3 separate regions of the Homo sapiens genome follow, and all the other regions are linked to region 2. Evidence: fine-mapped expression QTL. A gene starts in region 2. Each other region holds a variant in brackets. All regions are shown on one strand. Distances are from middle to middle.

Region 1 (2,764 bases), 88 kb after region 2:
GGCATGGTAGTGCACACCTGTAGTCCCAGCTACTTGGAAGGCTGAGGTGGGAGGATCACTTGAGCCCAGGAGTTCAAGGCTGCAGTAAGCCATGATCGTACCACTGCACTCCAGCCTGGATGACAGAGCAACACTCTGATACTAAAAAATAAACACAAGACCATTTAAATTAGTGCCCAAAGGCCAGGCGCAGTGGCTCACGCCTATAATCCCAGCACTTCAAGAGGCTGAGGCAGGCAGAGCACCTGAGGTCAGGAGTTCGAGACCAGCCTGGCCAACATGGTGAAACTCCGTCTCTACTAAAAATACAAAAATTAGCCGGGCGTGGTGGAGGACGCCTGTAATCCCAACTACTCAGGAGGCCGAAGCAGGAGAATCACTTGAACCCAGCAGACAGAGATTGCAGTGAGCTGAGATCACGCCACTACACTCCAGCCTGGGCAACAGAGCGAGACTCCGTCTCAAAAATAAATAAATAAATGCATAAATAAATAAATAAATAAATAAATAAATAAAATTAAAATAAATTAGTACCCTAAAATGAAATACTTAGGTGTAATTCCAACAAGATACGTATAAGACCTGCATGACGAAAACTATAAAACTAATGAAAAAAATCAAAGATCTAAATAAATAGAGGTGTTCATGAATAGGAAGACTAGTATTGTGAAGATATCAGTTCTTCTAAACATGATCTATAAATTCAATGCAATCCCAACCCAAATACCAGCTAGTTATTTTGTAGATATCAACAAGCTGATTCTAAAGGGGGTTTGTCTGTTTTGTTTTGTTTTTTAAGGCAGGGTCTTGTGCTGTTATGTAGGCTGGAGTGCAGTGGCATGATCTTAGCTCATTGCAATCCCTACCTCCCAGGTTGAAGTGATTCTCCTGCCTCAGCCTTCTGAGTAGCTGGGATTACAGGTGTGCACCCCTATGCCCGGCTAATTTTTGTAGTTTTAGTAGAGATGGTCTCACCACATTGGCCAGGCTGGTCTCGAACTCCTGACCTCAAGTGATCTGCCTGCCTCAGCCTCCCAAATTGCTGGGATTACAGACATGAGCCACTGTGTCCGGCTAATTCTAAAGTTTTAAACTAACACTACCTCAACACATCATAAAGCTGCAGTAATCAAGACAGTGTGATATCAGCAAAAGATTAGGCAAATAGATTACTGGAACACAATAAAGAGTCCAGAAGTAGACCCACACAAATAGAATCATCTGATCTTTGGCAAAGAAGCAAAAGCAAAACGATAGAGTCCGTAATGGATGGTGCAGGAACAACCAGACATCCACGTGCTATATATATATATGTGTGTGTGTGTGTGTGTGTGTGTGTGTGTGTGTGT[G/A]TATATATATGAATCTATACACATCTTACATCCTTCATAAAAATTAAAATGGAACACAGACCTAAATGTAAAACTATTAAATTCCTAAAATAATGAACATTGGAGAAAATCCAGATAACCTTGGAATTGACTGACTTTTTAGGTACAACACCAAAAGGATGATCCATGAAAAAAGCAATTGGTAAGCTGGACTTCATTAAAGTTAAAACATCGCTCTGCAAAAGACACTGTCAAGAGATTGAGAAGATAAGCCACAGAGTAGGAGAAAAGATTTGTAAAAAACATACCTGATAAAGGACTATTCAATACAAAGAACTCTGAAAACTCAACAAAAGAAAAATAAAAACCCAATTTAAAAATGGGCAAAAGATCTAAACAGACACCTCATATACAAATGACAAGTAATTGTATGAAAAGACTCCCAACATCATAAATCATCCAGTAATTGCAGATTAGTGCTACAATGAGATACCATCATACACCTACTAGAATGGTAAATCTAAAACACTTAATGAAACCAAATGCTGACAAGGATGTGTAACAGGTACTCTTCATTCATTGTTGGTGGGAATGCAAGATGGTACAGTCACTTTGGAATACACTTCAGCAGTTTCTTTAAAAAGTAAACATACAATTTGGCTGTTGCACTCTTGCGTATTTCCCCAGAATTGAAAACAGGTCCACATAAAAACCAGCATGTGAACATTTATCACAGCTTTATTCATAATTGCAAAAACTTGGAAGCAACCAAGATGTCCTTCAGTAGGTGAATGGATAAGTAAATGGTGATACATCCAATGGAATATTATTCAGTGTTAAAAAGAAATGAGCTATCCTATACTATAATGGTGTATAAATCACTTAATATAAACTCTAGTATGAAGGTTAAAAGACAAATATTTAACTATACTACAATAATCTGTTAATGGATATACAGTATAAAAATATGTAAGTCATTACTTTAAAGATATAAATGGGAGAAAGTAAAAGTATACAGTTTTTGTATGGAAGTGATTAGCTTAAAATAGATGACTGTTTTAAGATGTTTTATGTAAGCCTCATGGTAACCACAGGGCAAAAGTCTATACTAGATACACAAAAGATAACGGGTAAGGAATCAAACCATTCCACTGTAAAAATTCATCACTTCACAAAGGAAGACAGCAAAAGGGGAAGAAGGGAACAAAAAATTTACAAAAACAGAAAACACTGAACAAAATGACAATAGTAAGTCCTTGCCTGTCAATAATTCCCTTGAATGTAAATGGACTGAATTCTCCAATCAGAAGACAGAGTGGCTAAATGGATAAAAAACAAATCCCAACTATAGGCTATCTCGCTGTCTCACTATCTCAATGAGCCATCTACCATTTTCATTGCAGTATTATTCACAGTAGTCAAGATATGAAAACAAC
Region 2 (2,764 bases):
CTCTAGAAAAATGCTCCAAAAATGATAAGTAGTGATAATCCGCAGTCTCGTTGCATAAAATCAGCCCCAGGTGAATGACTAAGCTCCATTTCCCTACCCCACCCTTATTACAATAACCTCGACACCAACTCTAGTCCGTGGGAAGATAAACTAATCGGAGTCGCCCCTCAAATCTTACAGCTGCTCACTCCCCTGCAGGGCAACGCCCAGGGACCAAGTTAGCCCCTTAAGCCTAGGCAAAAGAATCCCGCCCATAATCGAGAAGCGACTCGACATGGAGGCGATGACGAGATCACGCGAGGAGGAAAGGAGGGAGGGCTTCTTCCAGGCCCAGGGCGGTCCTTACAAGACGGGAGGCAGCAGAGAACTCCCATAAAGGTATTGCGGCACTCCCCTCCCCCTGCCCAGAAGGGTGCGGCCTTCTCTCCACCTCCTCCACCGCAGCTCCCTCAGGATTGCAGCTCGCGCCGGTTTTTGGAGAACAAGCGCCTCCCACCCACAAACCAGCCGGACCGACCCCCGCTCCTCCCCCACCCCCACGAGTGCCTGTAGCAGGTCGGGCTTGTCTCGCCCTTCAGGCGGTGGGAACCCGGGGCGGAGCCGCGGCCGCCGCCATCCAGAAGTCTCGGCCGGCAGCCCGCCCCCGCCTCCAGCGCGCGCTTCCTGCCACGTTGCGCAGGGGCGCGGGGCCAGACACTGCGGCGCTCGGCCTCGGGGAGGACCGTACCAACGCCCGCCTCCCCGCCACCCCCGCGCCCCGCGCAGTGGTTTCGCTCATGTGAGACTCGAGCCAGTAGCAAGGGCCCGGTCCCACAGCTTCGACAGCCAATCAGGTGTCGAAGACAAGCAGGCGGCGGGTAAACCGACTCCCCCGAAGGAAGGGGAGGGTGGGAGGACGCCCGCGCCAGAGCCGATTTCACTGACCCTCCCCTCCCGCCGCAGGAGGCCGGCCGCGCCCGCACACCCAGCATCTCTACACCCCACCTACCTACCCGCCCCACCCAGGGGGCAACGCGAGAGTCGCTAAGCGGCTGCGTACTCCCGACGGCGTAACTGACAGGAGCTTTACTCCAACCAGAATACGCCATTTGTGTTTTCACACACGGCGGGAGGAGAAACGGCCAATCGGCGACAAGAGGCTAGCCGGAAGCGCTCCTCCCTCTGCGAGAGCAATGGCTCCGTCCGGTTTCGAGCATTTTCCGCTCCCTTCTCCCTCCCCCTCCGGTTGCCGCAGGGCGGGCCTCCCTCCCGCCTGCATCCAGCCACCCCTTTCCCTCCCAACGTAACAAACATTATGTTCCCGACTTCCCACGGGAAAGGCAACCCCCGCAAGCCACCAGACGGCCCCCCTAGCCACCCATCCCCCCAGTGTACCGCACCTCCCCTCCCACCAGAGTTCCGCTCCCCTACCTAGCCGAGGCTCTCTGAGGAGCCGGAGCGCCGAAGCACAGCCTCTTCTCTAGGCGGCCCCGGCGGCTTCCGCTGATTGGCGGCGAGTGGGCCAATGGGTGCGGGGCGGTGGGCGGAGAGGCCAATGGCGCGGCGGGAGGGGGCGTGTCCCGGGTGCCCCTGGCGCCGGCGCTGGGAATCCCCGTGCGGTCAGTGGCGTTTCCGCTCGGGCAGCGGGCTGAGTGAGCTGCCGCCGCCGCCGCCGCCGCCGCCGCCGCCGCCGCTGCCGGGGGAGGGGCGGCCGCCGCCCGCCTGCGCTCAGAGACTCACGCAGCCCCAGTCCCGCCAGTCCGCCAACACAGTAGTGCCGGCCCCCCTCTTTCCCTGGCCCTGCCCCCCCTCCCCGCCTTTGGCTCGCTCCGCCTTTCTGCCCCCCACCCCCACCTCACGGGTACGGGCCATTCCCGGCCAGGAAACGCCGTGGCGCCGCGTTGGGCCTAACTCGAGTCCTGCCGCCTCCCGGGAGTGCCGTGCGCCGCAGCCCGGGCCCAGGCCCCGGCAGCGCCTGGGACAAGGTAAGGGTCCGACAGAAAAGAGACCGAACCTCACGATCGGGCCCCAGGGGAGGGAAGGGTCACCTCCTCCGTCTCCCCGCGCTCGCTCTCCTTGGGTCGTGGGCCTGGCCCTCCCCAAGCTCTTAGGAGGATGCTGCCACTTCTCACCCCCCTCGCCGCCTTGCACACACCGTTGCAACACCCCATTTTCCCAGGGAGAGAGATCCCCCTCTAATCTAGGCGACCCAACTCCCCCTTTCATGTTTTTCCTGGGTCAGGACGCTTCCCCTCCCCCAACGCCTCTTCACCCCCTTTCCTGGGAACTGCCTACTCCACGTTTACCTTTCCCTTGAGGAGAGGCCTCTTGCTGCCCTCCGCTCGAAATACACAGGCATACTTTTTTTCTCTCCCCGATCCCCCACTCCCTACCCCCGTTCTCGCGGCCTTGTGACAGACAACTCTGATCGCTCTGGGGGCCGCGATCTCCCCTCCGTAATCTTCCTGGACGCCTTCCCTCTCGTTTTCTGGCTTCCCACCTCAGATGGCTGCTTCCCAAAGGCATTACCTTCGCCACCCCCACCACACGTTCTCTGGCTCCCCGTGGCGTGTGCCACAGCGTGTCTGAGATAGCCTCGTTGAATGTGTAGGGTTCGAGCCTGGAGTTGAGCCAGATTGTGTCGTTTTACTTGCCTTGGGCGTGGAGAACGATCTTGTGAGAATATCTTCAAAGGCAGAAAAATATTCCCTTTATGAATTCTCTTTCCCTCTGCGTGTAAGTCGGGAATGTGAAGAGGAGTGTAGGAAAGAGCCCTGGTTCAAGT
Region 3 (2,764 bases), 53 kb after region 2:
TGCTTTATTTTTTTAAGCCTAAGATTCCTATCATCATGACATAAATAAAATGTTCTCTAGATAGCCACTCTGCCCATGTGAGTTTATAATGAGTTAGTTGTTCAGCCATAAATACTGATTCATCAAGAGTCTGTGAGACTGTGGTGGAATGAATGTACTGCATTTTTAGTGCTCAGATTTGTGACTGGTCACTGATGTCTCTTCTGAGAACCCTTGAGGTTCCTGAGTGAGAGCACACAGCAGTGGATGACTGGGTAGAGACGGATATGTTTTGTGTGTGCTCTTGTGATATGGGTTAACATGTCCATTTATGATTATTGTGTGAGATTAGGCCCTGGGTCCTCTAGAACACTGTTGCATAAATGAAAAAAATTAAATTGTTTTGAATCAATTCAACCGTTATTATCCACTATCATCACTTGAAGGAAATTAGAGGAAAAATCCTATTGTAATTGGCATAATTCCTGTTCCTTGATCAAATGACAAGTCGGACTGTTTATTCCAAGAGAATACAGAATCTACCCTAAAAGACTCTCTTTCCCTCTCTGTTTCTGCCTCTTTCTCCTCTTTCCAGTTACTTACTGTTTTTGGATCTAGTGGCAGTAGCGTTTGGTGGTGTTTTTGGAATGCTCTTTCTTAATTCCCAGAAGCCCTGCATATTTTCCAAAGGTGTCTCTTAGGAATAGATCACTCCCTCAGATCTATGATGTCGTTTTCCATGTTTCTAGAAGTATAGGACACCCTTTCATTTGGTCTTCCTTTGAGGTAGAGTCTGTTCCCTGGAACACCCTTTTCTCTTATCCTCAGATCTGGATTCAGGCTGCCTTCCTCAGTGTCTGCCATTGCCCTCCTCCACTGGCATCACGTACATGAGGATGCTGCATGTAGATTATTTGATGTGATGAAGTCTCCAACTCCAGGCAGGTCTTCCCTGACTCCTCCAAACTTAAAAGCTTTTCTCTTTCCCCAAAGAACAGAAGTTATTTCTCCGGGGGAGGGGGGCATGAAAGATGAGCCAAAGTGGTGTGGGATATGGAGGGGAGGAGGGCAATAGGAATCTGCAAAAAGGAAGGACACTACTGCTGAATGAGCAGCACATTGCAGAAAGTCTTTTCCTAATTGCACATCTTACCTAAACATTGGAATCACTCATTGGTTTGTTCGGGGAAACGCTCGTAGAATTCCTAAAGAGAAATTTGACCATTTCTAAGGATGTTAACTGTTGAAGCATCTTATCAAGCCAGGTCGTACAATCTCCTATTTTGGTCCTTTAA[G/A]GAGTGTAGGCAATTATTTATTACAGATAAGTAATGAAGTCTGAGCTGCAAATAATATGAACTAGGCTCTTGAATTGAAATTCCTTCTTGATAATTCTAATGCTGGGTTGCAGTCTTTCTGTTTCCATCTTTTCCAACTAGCAGAGACTTAACGAAAACCAAAAACGTGTCTAGGACTGTAACTTCAGATCTGGTAGAAAATGCATTTCTTTAAGCTTTTTTAACTTGGTTCTGCTTTTATACTTGTATCTATAGCACATCCTTAAATTTCTACGGGCAACAGATAGAAATTCCATTTAACACAAGTCCCTGTTATATTCTCCAAGTGTATCTGACTATCCTTAATCTCATTTATACAGGCTCTACTCAAGCACTTTTATCTATGTGTCATGGTTAGTCTTTAGGAAGAGTTTAGGCTGCATACACAGGATTATCATAACAAGACTATTTAAATAGGATCTTTAAAAACTGTTTAAGTCATTGCTTTATTGTGTGCTGTTCACATATCAAGATTCTATTTTTTAAAATACAGCTTTTTATGAGGCAAAATAAAATGAAATGGAATGTTTTAGCTAGAATAGAATTTGGCTTTATAGCAGTGAAGAAGAGTTCTTCTTCTAATATTGGTCTTCTTCTAATATCTCCTAATATTGGTTAGAAAGGACTTACCTAATGCAGAACCTAAGAACATTTTCATTATTCAACAAAATTGTAATAAAATTCTGAAAATCCCTCAGAGTATAAGTTAATCAGATAGATAAGAAAACCCTCCATGGGATTATTTAGAACAATGTATATTTCTAATAGGCTCACTGTTTCATATCTCACTAAAGAGGTAAGGGCCTGGCCTTGTAAGTTAAAAACTTACCAGTATAGGACAAATTAAAGTTGTATCTGTATAGTTGTACTCAGATTCTTATGCTATTTATTTTTATTTTTATCATTATTATTCTGCAACTTCTGAAAAGAAGAGGAGTTCAGGTATTTGACAGAACATTTTATGATATCCCTAGAGTTTCTAAATTGAATCATAGTTTTTAAGAAGCATTTTGCATTTTTTAGTTCCTCAGTTGGTATTTTAAAAACATTTATAAGTGGCCAACAAGGCTCTCAGTAGTGTTTCACCTTGTTCTCTCTAAACTCCTCTTCTAAACACAATGTGTATAGGGCATTTGGTCTCCAGACTTCTTAGAAAAACCAGTCTGACTGATAATGAAACAGTGTGCTTTGCATTGATAATTAATATTTCATTTTATACACTGGAGCATTATCTGTAAATCTCCAAACATAGCATTGAAATTTAGTTGAACCGGGACTCGGTGAAAATCTGCTCAGTGTTCAGTACTGTACTATAAGCTTTCTTCACATACATTATCTCACTTACCATGCATGAAATTGGGATCATTGTCCTAAATTTATATATCCAGAAGCTTTGTCTCAGAAATGTTTGGTAACTTGTCCAAAGTGAAGCAGCTAATAAGTGACACAGC

Evidence for each region. PIP is the estimated chance that this variant, and not a neighbour inherited with it, causes the effect. A credible set is the group of variants that fine-mapping cannot tell apart.
Region 1: its variant is the best candidate, but not a certain one, in a credible set for the expression of SETD5 in whole blood (INTERVAL, PIP 0.62).
Region 3: its variant is the best candidate, but not a certain one, in a credible set for the expression of SETD5 in whole blood (TOPMed, PIP 0.62).

What each region holds. Positions count from the first base shown.
Region 1 is chr3:9,483,597-9,486,360 of GRCh38, forward strand. No RefSeq gene overlaps it. Among named protein-coding and RNA genes, the nearest start is that of LHFPL4, 69 kb to the right of the region's middle. The variant G/A (reference allele first, on the strand shown) is at 1,350.
Region 2 is chr3:9,396,014-9,398,777 of GRCh38, forward strand. It overlaps SETD5 (SET domain containing 5), which reads left to right and starts at 1,602. Exons shown (of 23, transcript NM_001080517.3): 1 at 1,602-1,964. THUMPD3-AS1 (THUMPD3 antisense RNA 1) reads right to left here and starts at 610. Exons shown (of 4, transcript NR_132781.1): 1 at 547-610. RefSeq lists a silencer at 500-1,809 and an enhancer at 2,420-2,469.
Region 3 is chr3:9,448,673-9,451,436 of GRCh38, forward strand. The region is part of intron 16 of SETD5 (SET domain containing 5); the gene reads left to right. Among named protein-coding and RNA genes, the nearest start is that of SETD5, 52 kb to the left of the region's middle. The variant G/A (reference allele first, on the strand shown) is at 1,275.